Linked DNA regions of Homo sapiens. The protein of the gene in region 2 interacts with the protein of the main gene of each other region in a pairwise test. Each region holds a gene or a part of one and is shown on either strand. Other genes may lie near its edges.

The links.
Region 1: the proteins of ALB (region 2) and NR5A2 interact in a two-hybrid assay, tested with the Homo sapiens proteins (one study listed by BioGRID).
Region 3: the proteins of ALB (region 2) and OTUD7B interact in binary tests that used the Homo sapiens proteins (3 or more experiments, as listed by UniProt).

The regions. Positions count from the first base shown.
Region 1 is NC_000001.11:200,020,676-200,032,331, reverse strand, and holds the start of NR5A2 (nuclear receptor subfamily 5 group A member 2), read right to left. Parts: upstream 4,623-11,656; 5' UTR 4,485-4,622; coding exon 4,421-4,484; intron 1-4,420. UniProt on the Homo sapiens protein: Orphan nuclear receptor that binds DNA as a monomer to the 5'-TCAAGGCCA-3' sequence and controls expression of target genes: regulates key biological processes, such as early embryonic development, cholesterol and bile acid synthesis pathways, as well as liver and pancreas morphogenesis.
Region 2 is NC_000004.12:73,412,449-73,423,112, reverse strand, and holds the end of ALB (albumin preproprotein), read right to left. Parts: intron 9,694-10,664; coding exon 9,479-9,693; intron 8,079-9,478; coding exon 7,946-8,078; intron 6,858-7,945; coding exon 6,760-6,857; intron 5,583-6,759; coding exon 5,444-5,582; intron 5,026-5,443; coding exon 4,802-5,025; intron 3,607-4,801; coding exon 3,474-3,606; intron 2,860-3,473; coding exon 2,815-2,859; 3' UTR 2,792-2,814; intron 2,022-2,791; 3' UTR 1,631-2,021; downstream 1-1,630. UniProt on the Homo sapiens protein: Binds water, Ca(2+), Na(+), K(+), fatty acids, hormones, bilirubin and drugs. Its main function is the regulation of the colloidal osmotic pressure of blood. Major zinc transporter in plasma, typically binds about 80% of all plasma zinc.
Region 3 is NC_000001.11:149,943,538-149,954,201, forward strand, and holds part of OTUD7B (OTU domain-containing protein 7B), read right to left. Parts: intron 6,685-10,664; coding exon 6,557-6,684; intron 6,242-6,556; coding exon 6,092-6,241; intron 5,547-6,091; coding exon 5,432-5,546; intron 3,799-5,431; coding exon 3,714-3,798; coding exon of another isoform or gene 3,687-3,713; intron 1,529-3,686; coding exon 320-1,528; 3' UTR 1-319. UniProt on the Homo sapiens protein: Negative regulator of the non-canonical NF-kappa-B pathway that acts by mediating deubiquitination of TRAF3, an inhibitor of the NF-kappa-B pathway, thereby acting as a negative regulator of B-cell responses.

The DNA.
Region 1 (11,656 bases), on a different chromosome or scaffold from region 2:
AGTTCCAGTTCACATGGTTTTCTCAAGCTTGATCTCTCAAGATCATATTGGTCACATTTCAACACTTCCCCAGGGCCTCCCCAGAGCACAATGCCCTCCTGAAGTTCCTTGAAGCCAACTGGATTTTTCCAAGAAGTCTGTTCCAATAAGGTGAAGCGTGAGGAAGTGCAACTCAAAGAACTAGTTCTATCCTAAGGTAGACTCTAGAGCTGCGGAGTGAAGTTGTCTTGCCTGCCTAGTGCATCCCTGGGGGTGGGGATTGGGTTGGGCCTGTAGGTGGAAGTCTGACAATGTGCCCTTCTCTAGCTCAACTTATGCTCAAGGCTGAATCCAAGATAATCCTAGACATTGTGTCTGGTAGAGGGGTCAAGTAAAGGAGAGAAGCATTAACAAGCCTCTGTTCTCCCTTCCTCTATAAATCTCTCTTGGTTTGTTAGAAGAGGTGTTAAAGATGCCAGGTGTGGTGGCTCACATTTGTAATCCCAGCACTTTGGGAGGCTGAGGTGGGTGGATCACCTGAGGTCAGGATTTCGGGACCAGCCTGGCTAACATGGTGAAACCCCATTTCTACTAAAAATACAAAAAATTAGCCAGGCGTGGTGGCGTGCACCTGTAATCCCAGCTGCCTGGGAGGCTGAAGCAGGAGAATCTCTTGAACCCAGAAGGCTGAGGCTGCAGTGAGCCAAGATCATGCCATTGCACTCCAGCTTGGGCAACAAGAGTGAAACTCTGCCTCAAAAAAAAAAAAAAAAAAAAAAAAGGTGTTAAAGAAAAAGAAATCCTTTTTTTGTTTTGTTTTGTTTTGTTTTGTTTTTTTGAGATAGGGTCTCACTTTGTTGCCCAGGCTGGAGTTCAATGGCACAATCACAGCATCCTCAACCTCCCTGGCTCAAGTGATCTTCCTACCTCAACCCCCAAGCCCTAGTCACTAGGACTACAGGCACATGCCACCACACCCACACCCAGCTAATTATTTATTTTTTTATTTTTTGTAGAGACTGGGTCTCACTATGTTGCCTAGGCTGGTCTGGATCTCCTGGGCCCAAGTGATCCTCCATCCTCAGTCTCCCAAAGTATTGGGATTACCAGTTTGAGACACTGTGCCTGGCCCAAGAACTCTGTTAACTCTGGTCACTACCTGTGGATCCAGGCCAGAAAAGAGGAATCTGAGAAGCACTGTTTTGGAGATGGACTCGGGCATGGAAAGAAGGGAGGCTCTAGAGTTTAGCTTCATAGAAGAAACTGGCAGCCTAAGCCCCAACTATGAGAATCAGAACATGGGCTTGTGTGGCTGGCATTCTAAATAAAGCTCGCTGGAGGTTAGGGTGACATAATGGCTATCACACTTTCCGCTGATGAAACGTCTACTTTCAGAGATCCTTATGAGCACAGAGCTTGCTGGAGGTTATCACTGAAATAAAATCAGACTCAGAGTGTTCAGGGGACCAGATAGCAAGACTCACATTACAGACTCAATACAGTGTTTGCACTGTGTATCATGTACCCCTAAGTATGCAGACATAACCTTCTGTGGATAATATGCAATATTATACTGAGTGCATAAAATATTCTGCAAATGCAGTTAATTTGAAGAATTATGGAAATTTAATATGAATCAAAGCATAATATTGGGCACTGTGGGAGTGGTCAATAAATATTTGTTTTATGTATAACATTTCCTACCACACAGATATGGCTCTTTTCTTGATATAGGTAAGTATAAAAAGCTTCTAAAGTTAGTACTGCATATTATTCAATAGAATCATCCCACTTGGGAGAAAGAAGTAAACCAAGACCAGAAACCAAGAGTCTGGCCAGTGTCCCAGAGTTAGTTAACTTTAAGGGAACAATCTAGTTATAACCTGAGTGTGCTGCTTTTACACTACAATGAATGATTATCTTGCAGGTAGGCAGAAGGAACAACTTTATCTTAATTCTGCTTTTCTATACAAGCACAGACATCTATACAAAACTTTCATGTAACCATCAGTGTGCATACAAGATGTAGCCCCTAGTTAAAAACCATGGAGACAGCTTTTTAAACAAAAGGAGGCTCATTTCCTAGTACAACACAACTGAATTAAATATAGAATTGTAAACCCTGACTGATGTCTACATACACCGGGCTCGGTTTTGTGAACCACTCAACACAGCCCAACTTGCAATTTGCCATCTGAAAGCTACCCTCGAGACCCTCAGACACTCTCTACAGCTGCACCCGTGGGTTCTTCCCAGTGGGGCTACCCTGGGCAATCAGAAAGACCCATTCAAGGGGCATCTCTCCCTCAGGAATCGGGTCAGGCCCTTCAATCCAATAGTTCAGTCCGAAGGCTCCTCACCGCCCTCTGTTCCTCTCCCTCAGCCCTTTGGATGGCTCCGTCCAGCCATTCACCCTGGGAACGACCGTTAGCACCCTCGTGGAGGCTACGAGGTAAACAGATTGTCTCCCGGTGCCACAGCCGCCTCAGGGTCACTAAGATGTTGCAGGTGCGGACACCTCACAACCACCTGCGGGGCTGCAATACCAGGAGGCGGAGGGGATGTGCTTGGGTTGGGAAGGGGCGGGTGGCTGCGAACAAGATCCTGAAAGAGGTCTCTTTTACCGGCAAATTGACTGGAATTTTGTTATCCCGGAATCCGGCGCCCGGAAGTGCCTGCACAGGTTTAGGATGTTGGGGTAGTCTCGCTGAGGCCAGGGGAGAGCCTTCTTCGGTACTTTTCTTGAGGTTTAGTCCCCAGCAGCCCCTTATGGGCTGGACCGACAGTCCTCCGGTTCCCAGCCCTCTGCGGTGGGACCGATTCCAGAGCTGCAGGTGTTCTCTGTTTACGCTCAGAGTGTACCGCCTCGGTCCCTTGCGATGTGAGTTGCGCGTGCGGTAGCTGGAAACACAGTTCTTCCAGGGTTGCAGAGAAAAGTGCAACAGCGTCTCTTTCCCCTACCTTACCCTCTTTAATTCACCCATGGGGTGTGGGGGAGACTGTGAGGGATCGGCGTGCGTGGTCTCCCGACCCAGCTCAACTCTATTTTGGCAGCGGCCAGCTGGGGCTGCGCGCAGCAGGAGCCCAAGACCGCCCGCGCGGGCGCGAGCCCCCGAGCGCGCGTCCCCCGTGCGCGCGCAGTCCGCGTCTCCGGCCCGAGCGCGCTCTAGCTGCGGCCCCGGACGCGGAACCGGAGCTGCGCGGAGCTGCCGGGAAGGACTCCTTGCCTGCGCACCGCGGCGGTTCTGCCCGACGAAAAAGATGCGAAATGGTTGTGTGCTGCTCTCTCATCTTTCTTGTGCCTGTATTTTCTGTGTTATCTGCAGAACAATTGATTGTGTGTTACACCCTGCTTACCTTCCCCATGTTTTCTTTTTCGTAAGTATAGAACATTTTTGGTAAACATTTCCTCAAGTGATATACTTTAGGGTGTAGTTGGCCCATAAAAAAAGCAATCTGTGACTCCACTGCATTCTGTGGAGTCAGCTGACTAGGAAGGAAAAAAGAGGAAAAACTCAAGCCTTGATTTTCTTTCTTGTTATAATGGAGCTGAGACTCAGAGAGCTCATGACAGGCCCCTGCAAATTCGGAGGGAAATTCCAGTCTGAAAGCCTAGGCAAATGCTGCCAGAAAAGGCACAGGTCCTTCAAAAACTGGGGAAAGGCAGAAGGGCCTGACTTCCAACAGACAAATAATTACAGATCACTGGGAATCACTTCCCTTCAGTCCTTTACTTTTAGAATTAATTGAATGTAGTCTTGCTATAAAATTCATAAGTTTGTAACTCTATTTTTTAAATGAATAGTAGCTTTATTTACTTATTTCTGTTTGTAAAAACAAAATATACTAATTGTTGCGAGAAACAGTAGCTCTTCAAATCCTTTACTAATGATGGTCTAGTTTTTTTGGTTTTTTTTTTTTTTTTTTGGAGGTGGGGGCATGACTTTCATTCCCCAGGAAAATAAAATGAAAATTTTTTACGGTATAAGCAGAGAATAAGACACCATACTTTTGTGTGGGTTGAAAAGTAACAAATACTTGACAGCTATCTGTTAAAGTTTGATCAATGATCACTCAATATGATTAACTTGTTTCAAATTGTTCAAATTTTAGCTTATTATTTCTGATTAAAAATTATCAGAAAATATTAAAGTTGAAATTGATAAAGTATAAATTATATTTTCTGGCTGATTAGGGTATTAGAATGACACCAGTAAACACTAGATATAATGAATAATATTCATATGTTGAAATATCCATTTGCTTTTTTTGAACTGCAAGAAAGATAAATGTGTGATATATATACATAGGCTTATTGTGTGCTTTTAATAAACATAATAGGAAAAGCCATGACTTAAAATGCAAAATCCATCAACAAGATTAAATTATATGTATGTAGTAGCAGAATAAATAGATGATCAATAGAGAAACTCCTACTTACCAATAGGTGTAAGTCCGTGCTTTAAAGACTCTTGTAAATCCCCAGTATCTGAATTAGAAGACATTCTTAGTGAAATTATAGGCAGTTCTTTGGCTTAAAGCAGAAATCATTGAGCAAAAGAAAAGTGCAGCTTGTCAAATTTCGTGGCCTTGGGAAGGACACATCAGACTACAGTAACCCTTAGTGAAAGTTAAGAAAAAGCAAAGGAAAAAAAAAAATCCAGAATTCATAAAGTTACAAGCAAGTCTTTCCCTGGACTCTGTACTTTTTCCAACATTAGTGACCTGCTGTAAACCATGTATCCAGTTTCATGATGGTTTCTAATCAGAAGAATGGAAACTTTTGATAGGCTTTGACTCATCACATGACTCTATGCAGGTTGATAAGAGGACCCTGTTATAAAGTGACAGCAAAAGAGATAAGAATTCTTGCCAGATAATGGCAAAGAAATGATTAACTCAGAAGTGGAGAGGTGCTATGCAGCACAGAGAGTGGAAAGTTGTAAAACTGAGGGGTCAGAAGATCAGACTTAGTGGATAAAAACTGCAAACCAGCTAACTAACTTAGGCTAACTAAACTTTGGCTTGTGACATACCCCTTGATGTCATCACCTCTTTGCATAGAGGAGGACAGACATAGCTCTTCTGACCTCTGTAAATACATTTTAGATGATAACATTGGCAGACATTAATTCTTTAAGTGATGACTACAAATGTGATCGACACTCTGAAATACTACAGGTAGCATTTCCAAGCTTATGGTTATTTATTTATTCATGTTGTGGTCAACCAACTTTTTTATCGGGCCTATTCATTAGATGAGGAGTTAACCTTAGCTTGTTTCTACATTGGTCATATGGCTAAAACACAATCTATCTCTTTATCCCCAAAAGGTAAAACTTATGCTTTGAGATTAATGCTGGCAAAATGGTGAATATGTAACACATTTTTCATAGTTATAAAGTTATTATTCTTAGGCTGGGCATGGTGGCTCACACCTGTAATCCCAGCACTTTGGGAAGCCAAGGCAGGCGGATCACCTGAGGTCAGGAGTTCGAGACCAGCCTGGCCAACATGGTGAAACCTCCATCTCTACTAAAAATGCAAAAATTAGCTGGGTGTGATGGTGCACTCCTGTAATCCCAGCTACTTGGGAGGCTGAGGCGGGAGAATTGCTTGAACCTGGGAGGCAGAGGTTGCAATGAGACGCTGTTGCACTTCTCTCTGCAACCCTGGAAGAACACAATCCAAGATCATGCCACCGCACTCCAGCCTGGGCAACAGAGTGAGACTCTGTCTTCAAAAACAACAATAACAACAAAATAACAATTTTTTTTTTTTGAGATGGGTTCTCGCTCTGTTGCCCAGGCTGGAGTGCAGTGGCACGATCTCGGCTCACTGCAGCTTCTGTCTCCCGGGTTCAAGCAATTCTCCCGCCTCAGCCTCCCCAGTAGCTGGGATTACAGGGGCACACCACCATGCCCGGCTAATTTTTGCATTTTTAGTCAAGACGGGGTTTCACCGTGTTGGCCAGGCTGGTCTCAAACTTGTGACCTCAAATGATCTACCCGGCCTCCCAAAGTGCTGGAATTATAGGCGTGAGCCACCGCACCTGGCCAAAATCCTCAATTTTAATATTGACACTCCTTTTAAATTAAGTAAATGCAGGTTGTGTGTATGGGTACAGATAATTTTTAACTCAATATATAAACATTTGTTGTAATAAAACTTCATATATCAGATGATAGATTTAGCAGTCTTTGTCTAAAGATTCACATTACAGAATTTATGGTCTATTAATTTATTTAGAGATGGGATCTCACTCTGTCACCCAGGCTGGAATGGAGTGGCACAGTCATAGCTCACTGCAACCTCAGACTCATGGACTTAAGCAATCCTCCTGCCTCAGCCTCCTGAGTAACTAGGACTACAGATGTGTACCACCACACCCAGCTAATTTTTTAAATGTTTTGTAGAGACAGTGTGTTGCTGTATTGCCCAGGTTGGTCTCCTGGGTTCAAGCAGTCCTCCTGCCTCAGCCTCCCCAAGTGCTCAGATTACAGGTGTGAGCTACCTGTAAACCCAGGCCAGTCCTTTTTTTTTTTTTTTTTTTAATGACAGAGTCTTGCTCCATTGCCCAGGCTGGACTGCAGTGGTACAATCTTGGCTCACTGCAACCTCCGCCTCCCAGGTTCAAGCAATCCTCCTGCCTCAGCCCCCCTAGTAGCTGGGATTACAGGTACGTGCCACCATGCCCGGCTAATTTTTGTATTTTTAGTAGAGATGGGGTTTTGCCATGTTGGCCAGGCTGGTCTCGAACTCCTGACCTCAGGTGATTCACCCGCCTCGGCCTCCCAAAGTGCTGGGATTACAGGCATGAGCCACCACACCAGGCCCTTTTTTTTTTCTCTTTTGTTTTTTAATCAGATTACTGTTAGTTATTTCCCCTCTTGCCTCACTTCATGTCAGTTGAAATGTTGGAATACAGCATCTGAAAGTGCTGTCCACTGCCTTTCAGCTGTGCTGCTGGCTCTGAACTTTGCCCAAGGTGAACTTGCCTTTATCGGGTTGGGGTGGCTTGGGGTCTGGGTGACCCCTGAAGTCAGAATCAGAAGTGGCCACATTCGTGACTTGTGGTCTTCTGAGTATAAGAAATGTCCCCATTTGGATATCCTCACAGCCTCATGAAAGTAAGATTTTATTGAGTAGACCTGCTCATGGAAGGTGGGTAGTTTCCAAGTAGCACTGGTACACACCAAGTGAAATAACTGGTAATCCTGGCTGTCAGCGGAGCCAGGTCAACATGCTGGTATACGTGCTGTTTTTCCTTTGAGCTTTAAGTTCTTATGTACACATAACCAATCCAACCTACTTTTCATTAACACCATGTTAGGTATTATTTTCTTAGATTGATATTTTTCTTTTAAAGAAAAAAAAATCATAGGGTGGATTTTAAAATATTATTATTGAAACCAATGATTTCTTCTTTGATTTTAGATGGAAACCCAGAAGGGACCTTCCCCATCTTCTCTCTCTCTCTCTTTCTCTCTCTCTCTCTCTTTTTCTCCCTCTCCTTTCCTCTCCTCTCCTCTCCCCTCCCCTCCTCCCCTCGCCCCTCCCCTCCCTTCCCCCTCTCCTTCCTTCCTTCCTTCCTTCCTTCCTTCCTTTCCTTCTTTCCTTCTTTCTCTTTTCTTTCTTCTTTCTTTCTTGACAAGGTCTCACTCTGTCACCCAGGCTGGAGTGCAGTGGCATGATCTCGGTTCACTGCAACCTCCACCTCCCGGGTTCAAGTGATTCTTCTATGTCAGCCTCCCAAGTAGCTGGGATTACGGGCACCCACCACCACGCCCAGCTAATTTTTGTATTTTTAGTAAAGATGGGGTTTCACCATGTTGGCCAGGATGGTCTCAAACTCCTGACCTCAGGTGATCCACCCACCTCGACCTCCCAGAGTGCTGGGATTACAGGTGTGAGCCATGAGGCCCAGCTAATTTTTGTATTTTTTTGTAGGGACAGTATATCACCATGTTGCCCAGGCTGGTGTCGAACTCCTGGGCTCAAGCGATCCTCCTGCCTTAGCCTTCCAAGTGTGTGGAACATATATTTCTATGGACGTATTTTGCATCTGTAACTGCTTTGAAATATGTAGGTCTTCTTTTACACCTGCCAAAGTGTTGGATACACATTTCCTGAGGCCTTTCATATCATTCAGTCCATAAAATTACATAGTCCATCGGATCCTCTCAATGCACTGGTTGTAGCTCTGACAGTTTTCCTGAGGAAACCAGTCAGTTTGGGTTGCTGAATGCAGCCTATATAAGCACAAATTATGAGATCATGGTAAGAATGAAGGCAGGGTAGCAGGGTGGTTAAGAGCCTAGGATTTGAGGTCAGAAAGCTCAGGGCTTCCATTTGTACTTTGCCTCCTTCTTGGTGGCAAAGTAATGCTTGGCTTTTTTAAGGCTTGAATTCCTCATAAGTAAAAATGACAAAAATGATGAAATCCAGTAGTTTTTGTGGTAAGATGTAAATGAGAAATAAAGTACTCAGTATCATGTCAGAGAAAGAAAGTACTCAACGTGTCATCAAAAGTGAATATGGAGGTTGGGCGCAGTGGCTCACACCTGTAATCCCAGCACTTTGGGAGGCTGAGGCAGGTGGATCACTTGTCATCAGGAGTTCAAGACCAGCCTGGCCAACATGGTGAAACCCTGTCTCTACTAAAAATACAAAAAATTAACTGGGCAAGGTGGTACACGCCTGTAATCCCAGCTACTCTGGAGGCTGAGGCAGGAGAATTGCTTGAACCCAGGAGACGGAAGTTGCAGTGAGCCAAGATCGTGCCACTGCACTCCAGCCTGGGTGACAAAGTGACACTCCATCTCAAAAAAAAAAAAAAAAAAGTGATTATGGGCTTTGTGACTTGGGATCTTAAGTGAAAGACACATCTTCCTTAGTGGAATTTTAGAAGACATACGAAAGTTTCTGTTTTTGGGTTTTGTTTCTGACACCAGTTCTATCCTAGTCACATACACTATTAGAGACCTTATAGAAGACCTCATAGGATTCATATAATTAAACAGCATCATAAAGTGATTTGTGGCTGGGCACGGTGGCTTAACACCTGAAATCCTAGCACTTTGAAAGGCTGAAGCAAGAGGATCACTTGAGGGCAGGAGTTTGAGACCAGCCTGCACAATATAGTGACACTCTATCTCTTAAATAATAAATGAAATAATAAATAATGAGGAATAAGGAATAAATAATTATTAATAATAATAAATCCAAAAATAAAGTGATTTGCTTTTTTTCTCATCCTTATTGTACATGGTTAACAAAGCATGTAATAGCACAAAGATTGAATTTCATGCTATACTGTCTGCCTCTAATCAGACATAATTATTTTTAAGAATGTACAAAAAATTGGGGGTGGTAGTATTACCAGCTTGCCTAATAACTCCTAACAGAATCTTTAAAAGACACTATTTGCCATTTGTCACTCTCTTGCTTTCCTACAAAACTCACTGGCTTGTTGAGGAAACATTATATTAATGAGTTACTTTGGTCCTTTGAAGCTTATCCATCAGGCTGATTGAATAGAAATACGTACTCAGTACTTTGTGAGAAATGAACATATTTTTCTGAAAGTGAGGCTAGAGTAATGTTCACATGTGGTACAAATAACAGATGCTTGGGACTCAGCCTCAGTGACAGTTAACAAGCAATTTATGTTCTGGCCATGCGGGGGGGAGGACACAAAACAAATCACACCCTCAGTTTTTGTATTTATTTTTTCTCAATCAAGGTATCATCTGACCCTTTCCATTTGGCAAGTGTGGGCATTTTCCATTACAACATTCTGTTTTAAACACCTTCACTACCCCATTGAACTCATTCGATACCACAACATGGAATACTTCTAATGACTCACATTTACAAGAATATGTTTATAATGATAAAAAATATTTGCTAACAGATTTCAGAAAGGATTCGTAAATTATTGACAGATAACTAATGACTCTAAGGCATCTTTGCCAAAATCCAAAAAGTATTCAACAATGTCACCTGAACCCATATTGCATGATGATGTTAAAGTTTAGTTAATGAATTACAGTCAGTGTAAACTTCGTGACAACACTATTCCAAGACATTATGACATATCTATTAGGAATTGATATTCCTGCAAAATTGGATTTATCATTAACCCCTTGCATGAACAAACTAGAAAGGCCCTTTCAGTATGTTTATAATATGGGTTTATTAACAACAAACACCTTAAAATTTTCATCATTCAAATAGACTGATTGCATCAGATATGGAGGAGTTTTTAACAGAAGTCTTATAAGTACTGAACCAGTTAGTTACTGCCAAAGCATTGCTTAGTAGTGCATTTTTGCTTGTACCCTTTGCTAACATAGGCATTTGTCACTGATTTTGTACAGAACCTGAGCTAGGGTTGGCACTTTTTATTTTTTATCAACTTTCTTAATAATCCTCTCCTCTGCCAAATTATATAAGATGATGGAATGGTACATTTTGGAAAGGAGTGACTGAGTAAAGATTTCTTCTCATTCTTTTAAATAACTGTGAGAAATGTGGCACCTGGCAGGAAAGATAAGTGACTTTTACACAATACGATTATGGCCAGGTAAATATTACTCACTTTTTATAACACCAATAATTAAACAGAGCCTTAGTCAATCTTTTGGCAATTGAATGTTTAAGACTTTACTCTCTTGTAGGCTTGTGCTGAGTTCCCCATGTTTATCACAATCTATGATCTGTGTCTGATGGCTCATAGTTCATATCTTTATTTAGAGTACAAGAAATAAACTCAATATCATTTTGTTTCAATTTAAGGCCTTTAAAGACATTTAAGCAAACAACTAAATGATCTAAATTGTTTTTAAAAGAGGAAACTGTAGCATATCCAAAGTGATTTCCCTAGGAATCACAGCATAATTATTATTAAAACACAAAGCAACAAAATAGATCTCAAGCATTTTTTTTTTTTTTTGAGACAAAGTCTTGTTCTGTTGTCCAGGCTACAGTGCAGCCGCACAATCTCGGCTCACTGCAACCTCCATCTCCTGGGTTCAACCTATTCCCCTGCCTCAGTTTCCCAAGTAGCTGGGACTGCAGGCACATGTCACCATACCCGGCTAATTTTTGTATTTTTCGTAGAGATAGGGTTTTGCCATGTTGGCCAAGCTGGTCTCAAACTCCTGACCTCAGGTTATCCACCTGCCTTGGCCTCCCAAAGTGCTGGGATTACAGGCATGAGCCACCACACCCAGCCATCTCAGGCACTCTTAATTCATGAAACTGGATGTTATATATTACCTAATAGTCTGGCAGACTACATAAATAAAACAATCATTCAAATAATAGATTTTCCTCTAGACTGAAATATTTCATATGGGTGAAACTTACATGGGGCTATATAACTCAATTTTGATTTATGTTTCAGTGATTTTAATCAACTTTTTTTTTTGCCCTCTCAGTCTTTTGCGAAATAAGAAAATACAAATAATATTATTTTTAATAAAAAAAAATGTATCTGGGCATGATGGCTCACACCTGTAATCCCAGCACTTTGGGAGGCTTAGGCAGGAGAATAACTTGAGCCCAAGAGTTCAAGACCAGCCTGAACAACATAATGAGACCTCATCTCTATAAAAAATAAACAAAATTAGCTATATGGTGGCACACACCATGTTGGCCAGGCTGGTCTCAA
Region 2 (10,664 bases):
AGGTCGTGTTTAGTTACATGAGTAAATTCTTTAGTGGTGATCTGTGAGATTTTGGTGCACCCATCACCCATAACCCATCACCCGAGCAGTATACACTGTACCATGTTTGTAGTCTTTTATGAGTCCCCAAAGTCCATTGTGTCATTCTTATGCCTTTGCATCCTCATAGCTTAGCTCCCACTTATAAGTGAGAACATATAACGTTTGCTTTTCCATTCCTGAGTTACTTCACTTAGAATAATAGTCTCCAGTCTCATCCAGGTCGCTGCAAATGTCATTAATTCATTCCTTTTTATGGCTGAGTAGTATTCCATTGATATATACATATATCCATACACACAATGAAATACTACATATATATATGTATATCTATATATATGTGTATATATATCATCATGTATATCAATATATATGATGTATATCAATCAACGAGTGGATAAAGAAACAGTGATATATACTGTTTCTTTATCTACTCGTTGATTGATGGGCATTTGGGTTGGTCCCACATTTTTGCAATCGCAAATTGTGCTGCTATAAACATGCGTGTGCAAGTATCTTTTTTGTATAATGACTTTTTTTCCTCTGGATAGATACCCAGTAGTGGGATTATTGAATCAAATGGTAGTTTTATTTCAGTTCTTTGAGGAATCTTCACACTGTTTTCCATAGTAATTGTACCAGTTTACATTCCCACCATCAGTGTAGAAGTGTTTCCTGTTCATTGCATCCATGCCAACATCTACTATTTTTTTATTTTTTTAATTATGGCCATTCTTGCAGAGGTAAGGTGGTATCACAGTGTGGTTTTGATTTGCATTTCCATGATTATTAGTGATGATGAGCATTTTTTCATGTTTGTTTTCAATTTGTATATTTTCTTTTGAGAATTGTCTATTCATGTCCTTAGCCCACTTTTTGATGGGATTTTTTTTTTCTTGTTGATTTGAGTTCATTGTAGAGTCTGGATATTAGTCCTTTGTCAGAAGTATAGATTGTGAAGATTTTTTTCTCACTCTGTGGGTTGTCTGTTTACTCAGCTGACTGTTTCTTTTGCCATGCCATGCAAAAGCTCTTTAGTTTAATGAAGTCCCAGCAATTTATCTTTGTTTTCATTGTATTTGTTTTGGGTTCTTGGTCATGAAATCCTTGCCTAAGCCTATATGTAGAAGGGTTTTTCCCAATGTTATCTTCTAGAATTTTTATAGTTTTAGGCCTTAGATTTAAGTTCCTAATCCATCTTGAGTTGATGTTTGTATAAGGTGAGAGATGAGGATCTAGCTTCAGTCTCCTACATGTGCTTGCCAATTATCCTAGCACCATTTGTTGAAAAAGTTGTCCTTTCCCCACCTTATGTTTTTGTTTTCTTTGTCTAAAATCAGTTAGCTGTAAGTATGTGGATTTATTTCTGGGTTCTCTATTCTGTTCTATTCCATTGGTCTGTGTGCCTATTTTTATACCAGTACCTTGCTGTTTCGGTGACTATGGCCTTATAGTGTAGTTTGAAATCAGGTAATTTGTTCTTTTTGCTTAGTCTTACTTTGGTTCTGCAGGCTCTTTTTTGATTCCATATGAATTTTAGAATTGTTTTTTCTAAGGTAAAAGCCATGTTTTATATTCCTTACCTATACCATGGTTTTTGTTCTTTTATTCAGAATTATCATAATGTCAAAATATTATTTTGAATGTTTATAATCCATAACTTAGAAGAGTATTAATGATTTATTTAATTAGCCCACAAGAAACTAGAAATCCTCTACCGAAGTGGAATAAGAGAGAACACTGGAACTTCCACAGAACCTACAGAATTTTCAGGATAGCAACACATCTTTGAAAAATAACAGTGCTGTACCACTCTATTAGATTCTTTCCATTTTTTATTAATTGAAGCACAGAGAAAAGAGGCAAAATGATTAAAGAAATTTATGTTTTTTAGACAGGGTGTTGGCTTTACACCAACGAAAAAGAAAAACAGATGAATAAGCTTTTGATCTTCATTTTCTTTCTCTTATTCTCATGGTAGGCTGAAAAACAAAAGGACAAATATAAGTCTTATTTGTAAAATGGCATGTGTTTTTCAAACCTATTAAAATAAATGCCAAATTACTTAGATCATCTTTCTGCAATTTACACCAGTGAAAACAATTTAAGCCTGTCCTAGACTTACGGCTGCTGAATTCTTCTGTTGGGCTAGGCAAGGGGACACACCAATAAATGTTGTCATAAGAAGATAAGTCCTATTAAAGCTCAGCATGTTGACAAATTGGAAATGTAATAGCAGATTCTTCACTATAAAGTTCACAGAAGGTAGATCCATCATATTCTCCAATGGAAAGGATGAGTTGAACTATTAGGTTGAACCATGTGAAATCACTGATATTCAACTGTTTTTGCCCTATAAAGCACTCTTTCATGTGGTTCAGCCTAATTCCCAGAGTATTCCACTGCTGAGCCATCACTTACTTGGATGGCTCTGTGTACCGCATCATATAAGTCAGAACAGGACAATGGGCAACACTGAAACTTTGGTTTCAATTTTGAATTTTGACCCTTTGGAAAATTACTTAATCTATGCTTTGATGTTTATCTTCATTTTCTCATCTACAAAATAGAAATAATAGTGGTTCCCAACTCAGCAACTATTTTGAGAATTTTAAAAGCTAATATTTACATACATAAATAGTTTAGAATAGTGGTCGGTGCTGGTCTATATGGCTCTTGGAAATGGTCAATCTTTGCTATTTTAATAATAACTATTATAGTTACTTTTTTAAAAAATTCAAAATATAGTTACCTGAGATGCTTTTAAATGTGATGTTATAAGCCTAAGGCAGCTTGACTTGCAGCAACAAGTTTTTTACCCTGAACACAAAGACATGACAGATGTTAGGAAAATATTAGCATTACTATTAGGATACAAAATTAACATTTATGAAGCTATTGATGATTGCAAAGTGATTTCACGTGCATCATATCCTTTAATTACAATTTACTACTATAATCTCTGGACGGAAGCTCACGGACATAGTTGTCCCCAAATGAATAAAAAAAAGTTACTGTCAGGCCATAAAGGGCAATTTTAAGTGATTTAGACATTTGAATGTAAATTCTCCCACTAGCCTATAAAATCAACTAAATCACAAACCACCACATTTCAAGTAAATGTTTAAATAAATTAATGTTTTGATTTCATGATCAAAATATTTCAGGCCTTACAAATATTCCTATTAATATTCATAAGCATCACAAATTTGGAAACAGAACAGGCATTATAAACATTTAACAGTATGGCACAATAGAGCAGGAGATAAAAACAAAGTGCTGTTTTATTCATTTTGTAAGACAATTGTTTGTAAAATAAGATCCCTGTCCCACATGTACAAAGCCTCCTTTGATATATAAATCCCTAAGCCCTAGCCTAACCAAACATGCAAAAATGAATACTGGACATATTAAAATGAAGAGAACTGTAGTACCTCCTCGGCAAAGCAGGTCTCCTTATCGTCAGCCTTGCAGCACTTCTCTACAAAAGCTGCGAAATCATCCATAACAGCTTTCAGTTGCTCTTTTGTTGCCTTGGGCTTGTGTTTCACGAGCTCAACAAGTGCACTGAGTTTGAATGGAAAAAGAAAAAAAAAAAACAGAAAAAACATTACTCACGTATAGAAAAATGGAGAGAGTAAGGATGGTAGTCCCATCATTTAAGATTATAAATCTTGGAGCCAGGCAACTCTGAGTACTTTGGGGCTCAGGCATACCGCTATAAGTCTCAATATTCTCATCTGCATGATGAGGATAATAAAATCCACTTTCATGGAGTTGGTGGGAAGACCAACTGAAACAATCAGTATAAACCACTCATCACGTTATGTAGTGTCAACAAATTTCTTTTCAGTAAATCTCTGAAAAGAAGTATGTCATTGCAATTATATATTATTCAGATTTTGGAAGTGCCATATTATGTCATATTGAGTTTTATTGCTATTAAAGAGCTAAAAATGATCCTTAAAAATTTAATTATCTTGGACTTTATTTAAAATTTTTCTCATCTATAAAGATGAGAAACTTTATATTTGGTTCTTAAACTTTGCTCCCTTCAAAGCTAATAGTGGGGAGGCTATAGAAAATAAGGCTATCCAAACTCATGGGAGCTGCTGGTTCTCTTTCACTGACATCTGCAAAGACAACAATGCCAGGGAGAGATTTGTGTGGGCATGACAGGTTTTGCAATATTACTCTTAAGCCTAGACGATGATTACAGCCCACAAGAGATGACAGCAACTTTCTATAGCTAAATTTTATGCAATTATAACCCCTGTGATAGCAATAGGGAGTTGAGCTTCAGGGCTTGCATTTCTACATGTTTTTTATCCAAGTCTCATTCTCAAAAGTCACATCTTGGGGGTTTGTCTCATGTGTGGGGCCACCATAGGGCAAACTTAAAATAATTATTTACATCTAGAAATAAATTCTCCTATGGTTCCCATTAACTAATTTGCCATGTGCACAAATTTATCAGTTAATTGTTCATCTTTTTCTACTGAATATGGCCTAACATGTTATTCTATTGTGGCTTTAATCCACAATATTACTCTGAATAATTTTAGCAATATTATAACAGAGGATTTTGTCTTTAAAAAGTTATTCATTTTATTCTGGGTACTCTTATCAGCATAATAAGGGCAACACTCCAATACTTTCCTCTAAGAAATATAATCACTACTTCAGGAAAAAGTTGCTAGCTTGAATTGACAGTTCTTGCTATCAAGACTACAAACACATGCAGTAATGAAATACTCCTCACGTTTGTTTCTTGATTTGTCTCTCCTTCTCAGAAAGTGTGCATATATCTGCATGGAAGGTGAATGTTTCAGCATTAAACTCTTTGGGAACGTATGTTTCATCGACTTCCAGAGCTGAAAAGCATGGTCGCCTGTTCACCAAGGATTCTGTGCAGCATTTGGTGACTCTGTCACTTACTGGCGTTTTCTCATGCAACACACATAACTGGTTCAGGACCACGGATAGCTAAAGAACAGGCAGGAGAGCAGAAATTCAAAAGAGGTGAAGCTGAAAATTTTCTACTAAAAATACAAAAAATTAGCCAGGCATGGTGGCATGCACCTGTAGTCCCAGCTACTTGGGAGGCTGAGGCAGGAGAATGGCTTGAACCTGGGAGGCGGAGGTTGCAGTGAGCCGAGATGGCACCACTGCACTCCAGCCTGGACAACAAAGCGAGACTCCGTCTCAAAAAAAAAAAAAAAATTATCATCCTCGGGGCCTTGACTGCCAATATCACACATACACACACGTGCATGCACACACACATGCACACAAACATGCACACACACACATTACTTCCTTCTGCTTATGAAAGCTAGCATTATCAATATCTAAAGGTAAAATTTTTTCATTATTAATTTATTATATTTTTTTAAAGACTCACATAGTCTTCTGCACAGGGCATTCTTTTTGCTTCAGGATGTTTACAACATTTGCTGCCCACTTTTCCTAGGTTTCTTGAGACCTCTACAAGAGTTGGAGTTGACACTTGGGGTACTTTCTTGGTGTAACGAACTAATAGCCTGAAAAAAAGAAGTCATGTGTTTTCAGCAAGGCAAGAAACTGTCTAACATAGTAGATAAAACAGAGAACACTTGGCCGGAATCAACTAAGATGTTGCTATGTTCCATTCATCATATTATCTCCATCTGCAGAGTAGTGGGTTAGTGGAGGGTAGAAAACATTCTCCTGAACAACTAGTTAAACTTGGCTTTGAGTTCCACCTGTACCACTTGCATAATCTTGGGAAAGTGAGTTGCCTAATTCAGTGACATTAATAAATTTATTAATTTCTTCTTTCAATAAAACCTGGAGAGAGCTTCATATGTATCAGCATATGCTAAACTTGAAAGATACAAGTAGAAAATGGAAGGAAATATATCTGACTCAATAGGGATAGTTCAAGGGTTAAATTAAAAGTAGTAAAGTATTATAATTAATCTGACATGGTACCTAATATATAATAATCATGTATTAAGAATGCCAGTCACCATTAAAAGTCAATGTATGACTTTAATCTACTCGAGGAAAGAAACTATGTCTTGTTCACTGTTATTATCTCTAAAATCCATAATCAGAAGAGCACCATGTGTATGAGCCACACAATAAATATCTACTGTATAATATGTCTCTTCTTGTTTTTAACCTTCATAGATAAGACTCTATTGAATTGGGACATTAGTCCAGCAAGCCATTCTGTCTCTGTCTCTTCTATGGAGGGAAAGGTTTAACCATCAAAGACTAGGTGCATCTCCCAAACAACCTGAATTTAATATTCAAATATGTATCTAAATTCATTTGTTACATTTTTGTGTTCAGCTTACATATTACTTTTTGAGCGACATCTATTCAAGGCCTACTACTTGCTGCTCTACAAAATATTGCCATGCTCTATTTGCCCATTAACTATTTCTTAACCTTCAAGGGACATGCTCAGTTCTGATATACCAAGATTTGGTATTTACCCTCCCAGCCTACATACTTCCAATCTTAAGAGAACAATTTTTAGACTACATTCAAATATAGACCTCTCCACCCCATCAACTATTTTATCTCTCCTCTCCTATCTTTCTTGACAAAGAGTGATTAGAAATATGCAATGTATTTTCATTCTTAAAAGTTCTATGCTAGGTGGCTCATATATTAAGTCTTAAATAATTACAAATTGATAAAAAAAATCAGTCAATAAAAATTACTTACGCATTCTGGAATTTGTACTCTCCAAGCTGCTCAAAAAGCTCACAATTTTGTTTGATTAAATTCTGAGGCTCTTCCACAAGAGGTTTAAATTCATCGAACTGAAACATAAAAGAATTGTGTTAATAGTATTATGCCTCAGGATCAGATGCAGGTTGTTTTTCACCCCTCTGGTCAGAATGATATCCTTTCTTCTTCCTACTCAAAGCCACATGAATAGATGAATATCAATGCCGCTCTGTCACAATACATTCGAACTATTTATTTGGTGAGCTTGCATCATGTAAGTGGTTAAGAATATTCAGGCTCTGGAGTTCAATGACCAGTATTTGAGCCAAGTCATGTAACTCATTCTTCAGTTGTGCAATTTTACTTACCATCTCCACATTTCAGAATCCTTATCCCTAAAATAGGGGCAAAGATGGCACTCATCTCATAGAGCTGCTCTGTAAACCAGGTAAGCTAATGAAATTAAACAGTGCCTTGCATATAATAAAAGTTTAATAAATGATGGCTATGATTGTACATATTATTATTATTAGTTCACCTTTCCAGTTAGATTCCAGGCTCTCCAAAATGAGAGATTTTACGTTGGTCATTGTTTGTGCATGGTGCCTGGCATACAGTAGCTTCTTGAAAGCAGGAAAAATGAGTTTTCTCTGATTCTGAATAGTTCAGAAACCATTACATATGCTAGTGGGAACCCTAAAAATCCTCCAGAACAGATTTCCTCTCCTAACTTAATTTCTTGTAAAACTATTCCTAAACATCCTCAAAAAGATTTGAAAATATTCTAAAGGGATAGGTTCTATAATTTGCCATAAGATACTAATTCTAGTACTTGATTAATCCTGGAATCAGGTTAACTCACTTTACATCTAAGTTAAATATCTTCTAATTAACATTTAAATTTAATTTTTTTTTGTTCTCAGGATTGTGAAAAAGAGAAAAAAAGATCAAAATTTTTTAGAGATTGCTCTATTCAGATCTTTCTATTCTAACTAGTCTAAATTTTGTTAATCATTCTAAGGCTACTTTTTCTTTCATGTTTAAGATTCCAGAATTGAAACCATCTCAAGAAAAGATCTAAATTGCACTGTATATCATTTTACATTCTTGCATTATTTTTCTTTCTCATTATTGGAATCATCAGTCAAAGAACTACATTTTTTTCCAACAATAAACCTACCACTTTGGCATAGCATTCATGAGGATCTGCAGCGGCACAGCACTTCTCTAGAGTGGTTTCATATGTCTTGGCAAGTCTCAGCAGCAGCACGACAGAGTAATCAGGATGCCTTCTTGCATATTCATACAAAAACCTAATTAAGATGAAAATAAAATAGACTTTGTTGGACAAATGAGCACAAAAAATATCACAAAGCTAATCTCAAAAGTAACTCATATTCCAAAAGTCTTAATTTGACTAAACCCCATGCAGTAAAGCTTAGTAGCTAAGGACTTGGGGTCCAGAGTTAAAGTTACCAAGGCTCAATTCCTAGCTCTGCTACTTATATCACTGCATCACCTTAGGCAACTTATTTAAATGATCAGAGCCTTAGTCTCCTTCTCGGTAGAATGGAAATAATAATAGTATCTGTCGGCTGGGCACAGTGGCTCATGCCTGTAATCCCAGCACTTTAGGAGGCTGAGGCAGGCATATCACCAGAGGTCAGGAGTTTGAGACCAGTCTGACCAACATGGTGAAACCCCATCTCTACTAAAAATACAAAATTAGCCAGGCATGGTGGTGCATGCCTGTAATCCCAGGAGGCTGAGGCAGGAGAATCGCTTGAACCTGGGAGGCGGAGGTTGTGGTGAGCCGAGATGGCACCATTGCACTCCAGCCTGGGCAACAAGAGTAAAACTCTGTCTCAAAAAATAAATAGTATCTGTCTCGGAAGGTGGATTATGAGAACTATATGACATAATCTACACAAAGCACACACTGCTTGGCACATATGAAGTCTTTGATGAATGATACTTGTTATTTTTATTAACATTTTGTTTGATTTAAACTACATCTCAAAAGGATTCTGATAAATAGATGGGCAGAGATATGTTCTTAAAATATTCTCTTTCTTCTCTGTATGAGTGAAATCTTGTAGGGTACATAATTTTAGGAAATATTATTTAGTGCATTATCATAATCCAACAACAAAAATGCAGTTTATCACCACAACTTCTGACAATATGTAAACATTTATTTTGTAATTGAGTTGCCTACCATATTGCCATTATACTGAACTTCTGGTCTTTTCACCAAATATAAAGCACCTGGTGTCAGACTCTATATTTCTTTTTATACTTCTTTGCTATCATTGCATAGATTAGATAGATAGACTAGATTAGATTAGATTAGTTAGATAGACAGGCAATACATAGTCACACACATATATTATAGATGTTCAAGAAATACACTTGGAATGAATGACTGAAGTATACATAATTTATATATACACAAAATGTTTCTAGACGTATTTTCAGAAATACCCCTAAGGAGTAAGGAATGTTGAGCTTTGCCATGAACATGTATTATTTTATGACAATGTATTCAACTAATTAACTATTTCAAAAATTGTTAAAGCCTGGGAAAGGGAAGGATGAAGAAACATTCTGGGCAGCAGGGAAATTGTAGCAACTCCACAGAAAAGCCTAGGCTATCCTCCTAAGTTGTGAGGTCATGCCAAAGCTATAAAAGAATAATTTCTTATCTACTTACATGCCCAGGAAGACATCCTTTGCCTCAGCATAGTTTTTGCAAACATCCTTACTTTCAACAAAATCAGCAGCTAATGAAGGCAAGTCAGCAGGCATCTCATCATTTTCCACTTCGGCAATGCAGTGGGATTTTTCCAACAGAGGTTTTTCACAGCATTCCTTCAGTTTACTGGAGATCGAATCTTGATTTTCACAGATATACTTGGCAAGGTCCGCCTATAAGTAAGTTGGTGGAAATTGTTCAACACGAATTGACATTGCTACACTTTCTCCTCAGACCTTTATTAAGTTGGCAGAACATATTCATTGTATTCTAAGACCATACACATATTCCTTCTATGAACATACTCTGTTTGCTCCTAAACCTGGAGATGTAGATAGGACTACAAAAACATTCCCACTTAATTAAAATAGACTAATCAGTAGCAGGTGCTCAGCTCAGTTATTTATTAATTTTATGTTTCTACTGTTAGGGCATTTAAGTTTTTTTCATTAAAACTCAATGCTGTTTTTCCAAATAATCCCCCAAAATTAAGTGCAGGCCTTTTGAAACCAAATAACTAAATAAAATATAGAAGATTTTTGAAAAATGAGTCAAGATCATAGTCATAGGCCCTGCTTACATATATAAAATAACCGCCTTAAATTTTCCAGAAAGTGCCATGAGAGATTAGGATTCTAGTATTTGCCCATAAGTTTAATCTTGAAGAAAGGGAGAAAGAAAATATTATAAGTTTTGAGAAAAGAGATATCATTCCAAATATTTGCACATCTAACAAACAGAGTTAATTAAGGGAAGGAATATAGAGAAGAAAAATACATCATTTCCAAAAATCTCTTCAAGTAGTGACCTTCTCCAAGTCCACCTACCTCCCTCAAAAAATCTTCTTAGGCTGGGCAAGGTGGCTCATGCCTGTAATCCCAGCACTTTGGGAGGCCAAGGCGGGTGGATCACCTGAGGTCAGGAGTTCGAGACCAGTCTGGACAATATGGTGAAACCCCGCCTCTACTAAAAATACAAAATTAGCCAGGTGTGGTGGCGCATGCCTGTAATCCCAGCTACTTGGGAGGCTGAGGCATGAGAATCACTTGAACCCAGGAGGCAGAGGTTGCGCTGAGCCAAGATCACACCATTGCACCCCAGCCTGGGAAACAAGAGCGAAACTCTGTCTTAAAAAAAGAAAAAA
Region 3 (10,664 bases), on a different chromosome or scaffold from region 2:
TCCCCTGCTACTTTCTCTTAGGTCCCTGGATGGGACCCAGGAGGTTATAAGACAGAATCGCCATCTTTTCCCCTTGTACCTCAAACCTCATCAAGTCAAGCTCTGCAGAGGAATAGTACAGCCCCTGAGGTGCCATCCAGCCCCGACCTGCTCTTGCCAGCCTGGCAGCACTCCTGTGTGCACACACTTAAAAGTTTCCAGCCAGGCTCCCACAAACATTACTGCATTTTCCCCCTCAACATGGGGACTGTGTTCTTGATGAGCCAATTAGTTGAGCTTAACTTTGTTTAGCCTCCTTGCCCTTCAGTGTTCCACCCGTTCAGAACCTGTGCACCAGGAGCTCCCCATCCGGTTCCCGCTCCCTCCTCCTCAGTTCTTCCCTGTAACAACAGGAACAGAAGTTGTTTGTCTCAGGGTGTCCATAGAAGCTGCAGTTCGGTTGTTTGCATTTGGTCTGAGTTGGGGGAAGGCCCCGGAGACCTCCAGCCCATCCATCTGGCTCAGGGGGCTCTCTGTAGCCATTGCTATAGGAATCAGCCACTCGGTAGGGGGGTGGTAACAAGGCACCCCTGTGAAGTCCATCCTTAGAGTGGCTGCCTGGCTCCAGAGAAGGGATGCTGTCCTGGTGGGGGTAGGGTCGCCCAGGAGGGCACTGTCTGGGGAAGGTGGCATATGGTGGTAGGCCCCCGACACATGGACCCCCTGCCAACTGCCTCCGGGGTTCCTGGCAGTGGACTCCGCCCCCAGACGGCCGAGGGATAGTAAAGTCCCCAGGGTAGCCAGTGGAAAATGCCATTGCCCTGGACTCTGCTGGGGGACCGGTCGGCTGCTCTTCCCTAGCATCTGGCTCTGGCTTTTTGGCTGGAGGAGGGCCACCCCCTATTCCTCCATTCATGATCTTCCTCTCTGCCTCCTTCTGCTTCTGTTCTGCCAGGAATCTCTCCTCAGCATCAGAAAGGTAGCGCTGGATCATTTCCTCCTGATACTGGTGACGGTGACCCATCTTCAGGGTTCCAACAAAAATAAACTTCCCCTCCCCTTGCATGGCAGTCCTCAGAATGCTCAGGCTCTGCATCACCTCCTGGCTATACTTGCTCCCTCCGTTACCAACAGACTCAGCTGGGGGCTTCTCAGACACAGGCCCATCCCCAGCTGCCTCCTCCTTGCCACCCTTCCAGCTCTTCAGTGAGTTTTTCTTCTTCTTCTCCAGTGTCTCAGTGCCGCTGCTTCCTCCCAACCCTGTCCCCACCCCTCCAGGCTTTGAACCCTTGCTGTGCATCAGGCCCCCCATGTTCTTCTTGAGCTTGCTGCCCAAGGTTTTGCCAAAGCTGCCCAGTTTGTTAGCCACAGAATCTGCTCTCTTCTTGTCCTTCTCCCGATCTCGCTTTGACTTCTCCTTCCGCCGGCCGCCCTCGTTGCTGGTGGAACTGCTGCCAACTGACTCCTTGTCTGAGTCTCCAGACTCAGGAGTGGACCGGGGCTCATCTCCAGCTGAGGCGGTGGGGGACTCAGGCTGGGCCAGAGGAGCCTGGAAGAGACAAGAACACTGTTGACAGTTATCCCAGCAGCCTGGGGTGGGGGAATCCCCCAGGGACCTCTAGCCCATCCATCTGGCTCAGGGAGCTCCCTGCAGCCATGGCTATAGAAATTAGCCAGGTAGAAAAGGATGGACACCTATGAACTCCGTCCTCTGAGTGATTGCCTAGTGACTGCCTTGCTCCAGAGAAGGGCTTCTGTCATGATGAGGGAAGGGTCACCCAGGATGGCACTGTCCTTCCTGGGTTCCAGTCAGTCAGCTTTCTCCCCCACTGCAATCTGACTCCCTTCTGTAATAAGGAGATAGTAGAATAAAGCCTTACTGTTCATTTAGAACAATGAGCAACCATATGATACGTGGCTTCCGGGTGAGAGGCCCAGACATTAGAATGTTCTTTATTATACATTTCTCTATGCCAAATTCTGCTCGAAACTAATCTCAAGAAAGTCTTGACTAATCAAAACTAACCAAGTCTAGCCACTTTGCATCCCCTCAACTTTTATACATTCTGCATTGGAGTTATCAATTTGACCCTACTCCTGTGCTCCTGTTCTAACTCAGAGCCCACTGAATTAGGAGCTCTTTAAGCTACTCCGTCTCCTAGTGCCCAAAACAGAGGTCTATCTACAGAAGACTTTGGACGAAATAATGATCATCTCAAGTTCAACAAACAGTCCAGAAAACCTTTCTTAAAGAATATGTTAAGCCAGGCACGGTGGCTCATGCCTGTAATCCCAGCACTTTGGGAGGCCGAGGTGGGTGGATCACCTGAGGTCGGGAGTTCCAGACCAGCCTGACCAACATGGAGAAACCCCATCTCTACTAAAAATACAAAATTAGCCGGACGTGGTGGTGCATGTCTGTAATCCCAGCTACTCAGGAGGCTGAGGCAGGAGAATCGCTTGAACCCAGGAGGCGGAGGTTGCAATAAGCTGAGATCGCACCATTGCACTCCAGCCTGGGCAAAAAGAGTGAAACTCCATCTCAAAGAAAAATAATAATAATAATAATAATATGTTTTAGGTCAGGCGCGGTGGCTCACGCCTGTAATCCCAGCACTTTCGGGGGCCAAGGCAGGCGGATCACAAGACCAGCCTGGCCAACATGGCGAAACCCCATCTCTACTAAAAATAGAAAAATTAGCTGGACATGGTGGCGGGCACCTGCAATCTCAGCTACTCGGGAGGCTGAGGCAGGAGAATCGCTTGAACCCAAGAGGTGGAGGTTGCAGTGAGCTGAGATCGTGTCATTGCACTCCAGCCTGGGCATCAAGAGCAAGATTCCGTCTCAAAAAATATATATATGTTTTAGTATCAGATAACAGAGACTGGCTGGAGAGGAGATGTGGAAAACAGGAGACTAACGGTTTTTAAAAAGCAGGAAAGGGCTGGGTGTGGTGGCTCATGCCTGTAATCCCAGAACTTTGGGAGGCCAAGGTGGGTGGATCACCTGAGGTCAGGAGTTCGAGACTAGCCTGGCCAACGTGGTGAAACTCCGTCTCTACTAAAAATACAAAAATCAGCCGGGTGTGGTGGCGCACGTCTGTAATCCCAGCTACTCGTGAGGCTGATGCAGGAGAATCACTTGAACCTGGGAAGTGGAGGTTGCTGTGAGCCAAGATTGTGCCACTGCATTTCAGCCTGGCTGACAGAGCAAGACTTCCTCTGAAAAAAAAAAAAAAAAAAAGGACAGGAAAGGCCAGGCGCGGTGGCTCACACTTGTAATCCCAGCACTGTGGGAGGCTGAGGCGGGCAGATCATCTGAGGTCAGGCATTCGAGACCAGCCTGGCCAACATGGTGAAACCTGTCCTCTACTAAAAATACAAAAATTAGCTGGGCGTGGTGGCGCATGCCTGTAATACCAGCTACTCAGGAGGCTGAGGCAGGAGAATCGCTTGAACCCAGGAGGCGGAGGTTGCAATGAGCCAAGATTGTGCCATTGCACTCCAGCCTGGGTGACAGAACAAGACTCCATCTCAAAAATAAAAATAAAAAATACAATAAAAACAGGAAAAATTGTCTTTGGAACTTATCTGACATCTTCTAGTTACTTCTAACCTTGAATTGTAAGCCACCACTCAGAATAGATTCAGAAGGAAACCATCCCAGATCTCCTTGTTCTGTCACTGAAAATGAAATGAAGACACACCAGGGTAGATGTGGGAGAAGTCTTCACCTGTGCATCAGAGGACAGTGGGATCCACTTCACATTCATGTAGCTATGCAGCAGATGCAATTTGACCTCTAGGGACAGAATTACACTATGAAAAAGAGAAAAAACAAATTACTGTCACCTTTTAAAAGCAAAGCAATTTGATATAGTTGGGAGAAAGGGTGGGAGAGGGCTACATGGCTTAGGACTCAAATAGGGTTGGGTTTGAACTATTTCTCCACCAATTAATAAGCTTTATGACCTTGAGCAAGTCACTTCAACCTCCCTGAAACTCAGCTGCAGCTGAGAATGGGTATAGATAATATCTATCCTGTAGGGTTGTTGTAAAGATTAAAACAGTGTTTGGAAAGAGCCCAGCACAGTGTCTGGAAAATGGGAAATACTAGATAGTAGCCATTATCATTGTTGTTGTTGTAAATATTATTTAGAAGGAGCTTTTGATAAATAGGTGAGAGGTTATTTTTAAAAAGCCATAAACTCTGGATTTTAAAATCAAACTCTCTTAGCTGGGACCCAGTGGCAGGAGCCCAGAGAGTGAAGCACTAGGTAAGTGCTAAGGGAGGAGCTTTTGCATTCATACACTCTCCATCAGGAAGTTGATGCAGGAGGCAGAAGGAAGGCTTAACAAGCCACAGGGAGGTAGAGTGGGGGCTGAGAGGGTAGGGAACATATTTTTCTTGCTATTAAATTCCAGAAAGGCAAAAACTCAGAGCAAACTATTTTTATCACGTATTTATTTATTTATTTTTTGGATGGAGTTTCACTCTTGTTGCCCATACTGGAGTGTAATGGTACCATCTCAGCTCACTGCAACCTCCGCCTCCTGGATTCAAGTTATTCTCCTGCCTCAGCCTCCCGAGTAGATGGGATTATAGACATGCACCACCACGCCTGGCTAATTTTGTATTTTTAGTAGAGATGTGGTTTCTCCATGTTGGCCAGGCTGGTCTCAAACTCCCGACCTCAGGTGATCTGCCTGCCTCGGTTGCCTGTTCACTCTGATGGTGGTTTCTCCCAACATGCTGGGATTACAGGCATAAGCCACCGCACCCAGCCTTGATCAACTCTTTAAAACTCCTCTCACTTGGGCTAAGACATGTGATTTGATTATCCTGATTTTCTTTCTTTCTTTTTTTTTTTTTGAGACAGACTCTCACTCTGTTGCCTAGGCTGTAGTGCAGTGGCACGATGTCGGCTCACTGCAACCCCTGCCTCCTGGGTTCAAGCGATTCTCCTGCCTCAGCCTCCCTAGTAGTTGGGATTACAGGCACGCACCACCACGCCTGGCTAATTTTTGTATTTTTAGTAGAGACGAGGTTTCACCATATTGGCCAGGCTTGTCTCGAACTCCTGACCTCGTGATCCACCCACCTCAGCCTCCCAAAGTGCTGGAATTACAGGCATAAGCCACCATGCCCGGCCTGATTATCCTGATTTTCTGATCAATGTTTTAGAGATGAATCAGTGTATGAACACTTTTCCTATTGTAAGAAAAGAACAAGTTGAGATGCTAGGATTCCCATCTCTTTCACAGGGAGAAAAAGCAGCTGCACCATGAAAGAGTCCTGGTGCCCAACCTCTCCTCTACCTCCCCATCTTCCCAAAACTCATCTTAGCTTGTGACTGTCTTGCCTGAGCTGAGGAAAAATCCCTGGGAGATGGATGCCACATGTGGAAGAAATCCCAGCACAAAATAGATGAAAAGACTAGGCCTGGCTTACCTGGCCAATCGGACATTGTCACTATCATCTTTGCCCCACTCCCAGCCCTTTCCAGGGTCCACAGCAAAGTGCAAGGGCAGCAGCTTATACTCTGAATCTGTAAGTGGGATCACAGCTGGAGAGGAAGAAACATATCATCAAGGAATCTCCTTAAGAGAGAAAGGTAACTGAACACAGACTTATTTCACTAAAATCATACTAAGGTCTTTAATTGTAGTCACTTCTCAATTCTTACACGTGAATTACCCCGGTATTAAAACTAATTGGCTAGTTTTCCCGCTACCACGCAGCATATGTTTTAGGCCACAAATCTCCCTGAGTCCCCACCAGTCAGTCAACTAACTCTCATGATGTTCTTTCCAGTTAATGTATATTCAGAGAATTCAGTCATAATTTAAGACAAATTAGAAAAGCATCATTTAGAAGCTCTTACACCTTAATCATAAGCCTTTACTCCAGAAGAGGGTATATAGGTCTTGCTTTTCTCCCAACCCTTTTTTTTTTAATTTGAAAACTCTGGCGTAACTTCTGGCTTAATAAAACAGTATCAACATGTGCTGTCTGGGCTTGCATGTCACTTAATTCTTTCCTCCTACATTAGATCTCATTCAATTTTTTCAAGTGAAAATAATGCAGACCAAAAGACATGTCATTCAGCACCTTGTTCCTTGGTATTCTCCTTCTGCTCCATGGACACGAGTGCAGAAAAGTGGGCCTGATCATAGGCGAGCACCAGAGGGGAGCGGTGACACTGGCTGGCTGGGACCTCCAAAGGCAGATAGATTCCTCCAAAGGGAATAGGGGCAAATGCTGCAGGAAGCCATGAAGATTATTATGAAGGCTGTGTTTCTGCCTAGTGGACAATCCCTACATCCCACTCTGCCAACTGAGTCCCTCCCTGCTTTCATTCCAACATGTTTAATAATTCTTTCCTAAGAAGCCCTGTCAACTAATCCCAACTGCTTTACTCAGAATCTCTTGAGAATTTTGCACTATTCTAATTGATAACTTGCTTTTTCCCCAAGGGTCTATATATCCCCTTTCCTGCCTTCCTTCCAATGCTTAGCCTAAGGCTTTGCAAAAGGGGGTGCTCAGCATGGAGTGAGGACTGACTGGCTGACTCACCTTCCCCTCCGGAGTCCCTCAGCATGGTGTCTGCCACGACGACTATGGGCCTCCTAAGCACATGAGCAAGGACAAAGACGTGAAACTCTTCAAGGCTCTCATATACAGGCTCCTCAGAACTCTCCACCCTGGAACGACGGGAAGGGAGAGAGTGAAAAGGGTGCAGTAAAAATGAGAGAGTAGAAACAGGAGACCCTGAAGACCAGTTCTGCAGAAAGGGAAAAGAAGAATGTCCTTTCCTGGTTTTCCAATCTTAAGGCTGCCACTGATATAGCTGATTATTTTATGCTACCATGGCTGTTTCTACCTCCGTTTTCACAGATGGGGAAATCCAAGAAAAGAGATTTGAAGGCTCTAGGGTTAAAGCAGTGTTAGGAATTTGGAGGTAATCCCTATCTCTTAATATTCTTCCTGTTCAATAGCCTCTCTCCATTCTCTTCATCCAGTAGCTCAATACACAACTGCATAGCTTCATCCTACTTATTTTATATACTACAGCCACCCACACATCACACTCATGTCTTACAAAAACAGCCAAACACAATTCCTTTCCTATGTTCCTTTCCTCACTGAAAGAACAGCTTCACCATCTATCCAGTAGCATAATCAGAAATTTGGAAATATTTATTGTGCTTTTATCTCTCACCTTCCAGTAGTCACGTGATTTAACCAATTCCATCTCCCGTGTGTTTTTTGTTTTTTTTTCTTTTTTTTTTTTGAGATAGAGTCTCGTTCTGTCCCCCAGGCTGGAGCAGTGGCGCGATCTCGGCTCACTGCAAGCTCTGCCTCCCAAGTTCACGCCATTCTCCTGCCTCAGCCTCCCGAGTAGCCGGGACTACAGGCACCCGCCACCTCGCCCGGTCTAATTTTTTGTACTTTTTGTATTTTTTTTTTTTTTTTTTTTTTGTAGATGGAGTCTCACTCTTTCGCCCAGACTGGAGTGCAGTGGTGCGATTTGGGCTCACTGCAAGCTCCACCTCCTGAGTTCAGGCAATTCTCCTGCCTCAGCCTCCCGAGTAGCTGGGACTACAGGTGCCCACCACCATGCCTGGCTAATTTTTTTGTATATTTAGTAGAGATGGGGTTTCACCGTGGTCTCGATCTCCTGACTTCGTGATCCGCCCGCCTCGGCCTCCCAAAGTGCTGGGATTACAGGCGTGAGCCACTGTGCCTGGCAATTTTTTAAATTTTTAGTAGAGACGGGGTTTCACCGTGTTGGCCAGGATGGTCTTGATCTCCTGACCTCGTGATCCGCCCGTCTCAGCCTCCCAAAGTGCTGGGATTACAGGTGTGAGCCACTACGCCTGGCCTTCCTGTGTGTTTCTTTTATCTGTCTCCCGGGCTTATCTTTAGTCTACCACACTGTTCATCCATGGCCCTTTCCTGGATTACTACAACTGCATCTTATCCCACTCCTTTCCACTTCATTATCCACTGGAGTCAGCGTGTTCAAATACGGAGGGACAAATTTGCTCCTGTCATTCACATACTCAATATTCAATGGCTTCCACCCCCTAAAGCAATTTTATTCAATATTGGATGCTGATTACAAACAAGGATTTCTGGGCCTTACCTCTGTCCAACTCAACTGGACTTTTCTGGGGTGGAGGTCCAGAAATCAGCTTTTTAAATAACTCTCCCAGATTATTCTTATGTACAATAAAATCTGCATAGGTTATAATTTTTAACCATTATGGAAAATTTCAAAATTTTAAACATATTCAATACTAGAAATGATAATATACTAAACACTCATGTATCCATCACCCAGCTTTAACAATTATAAACACATGGTCAACCTTTTTTTTTTTAAACAGAAAGTTTATTACAGCATATTACAGGCTTGTGTCAGTACTAAATTGATCAATAAACAGATTCTAGCCTGCACTTTCAGGAATGCACCCAAAGCTACTCCTCAGATCTAGAGTAGCATGGGAACTGCTTGCTGCTCCTGCACTAATTTTTTTTTATTATACTTTAAGTTCTAGGGTACATGTGCACAATGTGCAGGTTTGTTACATAAGTATACATATGCCACGTTGGTGTGCTGCACCCATTAACTCGTCATTTACATTAGATATATCTCCTAATGCTATCCCTCCCCCCTCCCCCAACTCCACAACAGGCCTTGGTGTGTGATGTTCCCCACCCTGTGTCCAAGTGTTCTTATTGTTCAATTCCCACCTATGAGGGAGAACATGTGGTGTTTGGTTTTTTGTCCTTGCGATAGTTTGCTCAGAATGATGGTTTCCAGCTTCATCCATGTCCCTATAAAGGACATGAACTCATGCTTCTTTATGGCTGCATAGTATTCCATGGTGTATATGTGCCACATTTTCTTAATCCAGTCTATCATTGTTGGACATTTGGGTTGGTTCCAGGTCTTTGCTATTGTGAATAGTGCCACAATACACATACATGTGCATATGTCTTTATAGCAGCATGATTTATAATCCTTTGGGTATATACCCAGTAATGGGATGGCTACGTCAAATGGGATTTCTAGTTCTAGAACCTTGAGGAATCGCCACACTGTCTTCCACAATGGTTGAACTAGTTTACAGTCCCACCAACAGTGTAAAAGTGTTCCTATTTCTCCACATCTTCTCCAGTACCTGTTGTTTCCTGACTTTTTTAATGATCACCATTCTAACTGGTGTGAGATGGTATCTCATTGTGATTTTGATTTGCATTTCTCTGATGGCCAGTGATGATGAGCATTTTTTCATGTGTCTGTTGGCTGCATAAATGTCTTCTTTTGAGAAGTGTCTGTTTATATGCTTCGCCCACTTTTTGATGGGGTTGATTTTTTCTTATAACTTTGTTTAAGTTCTTTGTAGATTCTGGATATTAGCCCTTTGTCAGATGGGTAGATTGCAAAAATTTTCTCCCATTCTGTAGGTTGCCTGTTCACTCTGATGGTGGTTTCTTTTGCTGTGCAGAAGCTCTTTAGTTTAATTAGATCCCATTTGTCTATTTTGGCTTTTGTTGCCATTGCTTTTGGTGTTTTAGTCATGAAGTCCTTGCCCATGCCTATGTCCTGAAGGGTATTGCCTAGGTTTTCTTCTAGGGTTTTTATGGTTTTAGGTCTAACATTTAAGTCTTTAATCCATCTTGAGTTAACTTTTTTATAAGGTGTAAGGAAGGGATCCAGTTTCAGCTTTCTACCTATGGCTAGCCAGTTTTCCCAGCACCATTTATAAAATAGGGAATCCTTTCCCCATTTCTTGTTTTTGTCAGGTTTGTCAAAGATCAGATTGTTGTAGATGTGTGGTATTATTTCTGAAGGCTCTGTTCTGTTCCATTGGTCTATATCTCTGTTTTGGTACCAATACCATGCTGTTTTGGTTACTGCAGCCTTGTAGTATAGTTTGAAGTCAGGTAGCGTGATGCCTCCAGCTTTGTTCTTTTGGCTTAGGATTGTCTTGGCAATGCAGGCTCTTTTTTGGTTCCATATGGACTTTAAAGTAGTTTTTTCCAATTCTGTGAAGAAAGTCATTGGTGGTTTGATGGGGATGGCACTGAGTCTATAAATTACCTTGGGCAGTATGGCCATTTTCACGATACTGAGTCTTCCTATCCAAGAGCATGAAATGTTCTTCCATTTGTTTGTGTCCTCTTTTATTTCATTGAGCAGTGGTTTGTAGTTCTCCTTGAAGAGGTCCTTCACATCCCTTGTAAGTTGGATTTCTAGGTATTTTATTCTCTTTGAAGCAATTGTGAATGGGAGTTCACTCATGATTTGGCTCTCTGATTGTCTATTATTGGTGTATAGGAATGCTTGTGATTTTTGCACATTGATTTTGTATCCTGAGACTGCTGAAGTTGCTTATCAGCTTAAGGAGATTTTGGGCTAAGACAGTGGGGTTTTCTAAATATACAATCATGTCACCTGCAAACAGGGACAATTTGACTTTCTCGTTTCCTAATTGAATACCCTTTATTTCTTTCTCCTGCCTGATTGCCCTGGCCAGAACTTCTAACACTATGTTGAATAGGAGTGGTGAGAAAGGGCATCCCTGTCTTGCACCAGTTTTCGAAAGGAATGCTTCCAGTTTCTGCCCATTCAGTATGATATTGGCTGTGGGTTTGTCATAAATAGCTCTTA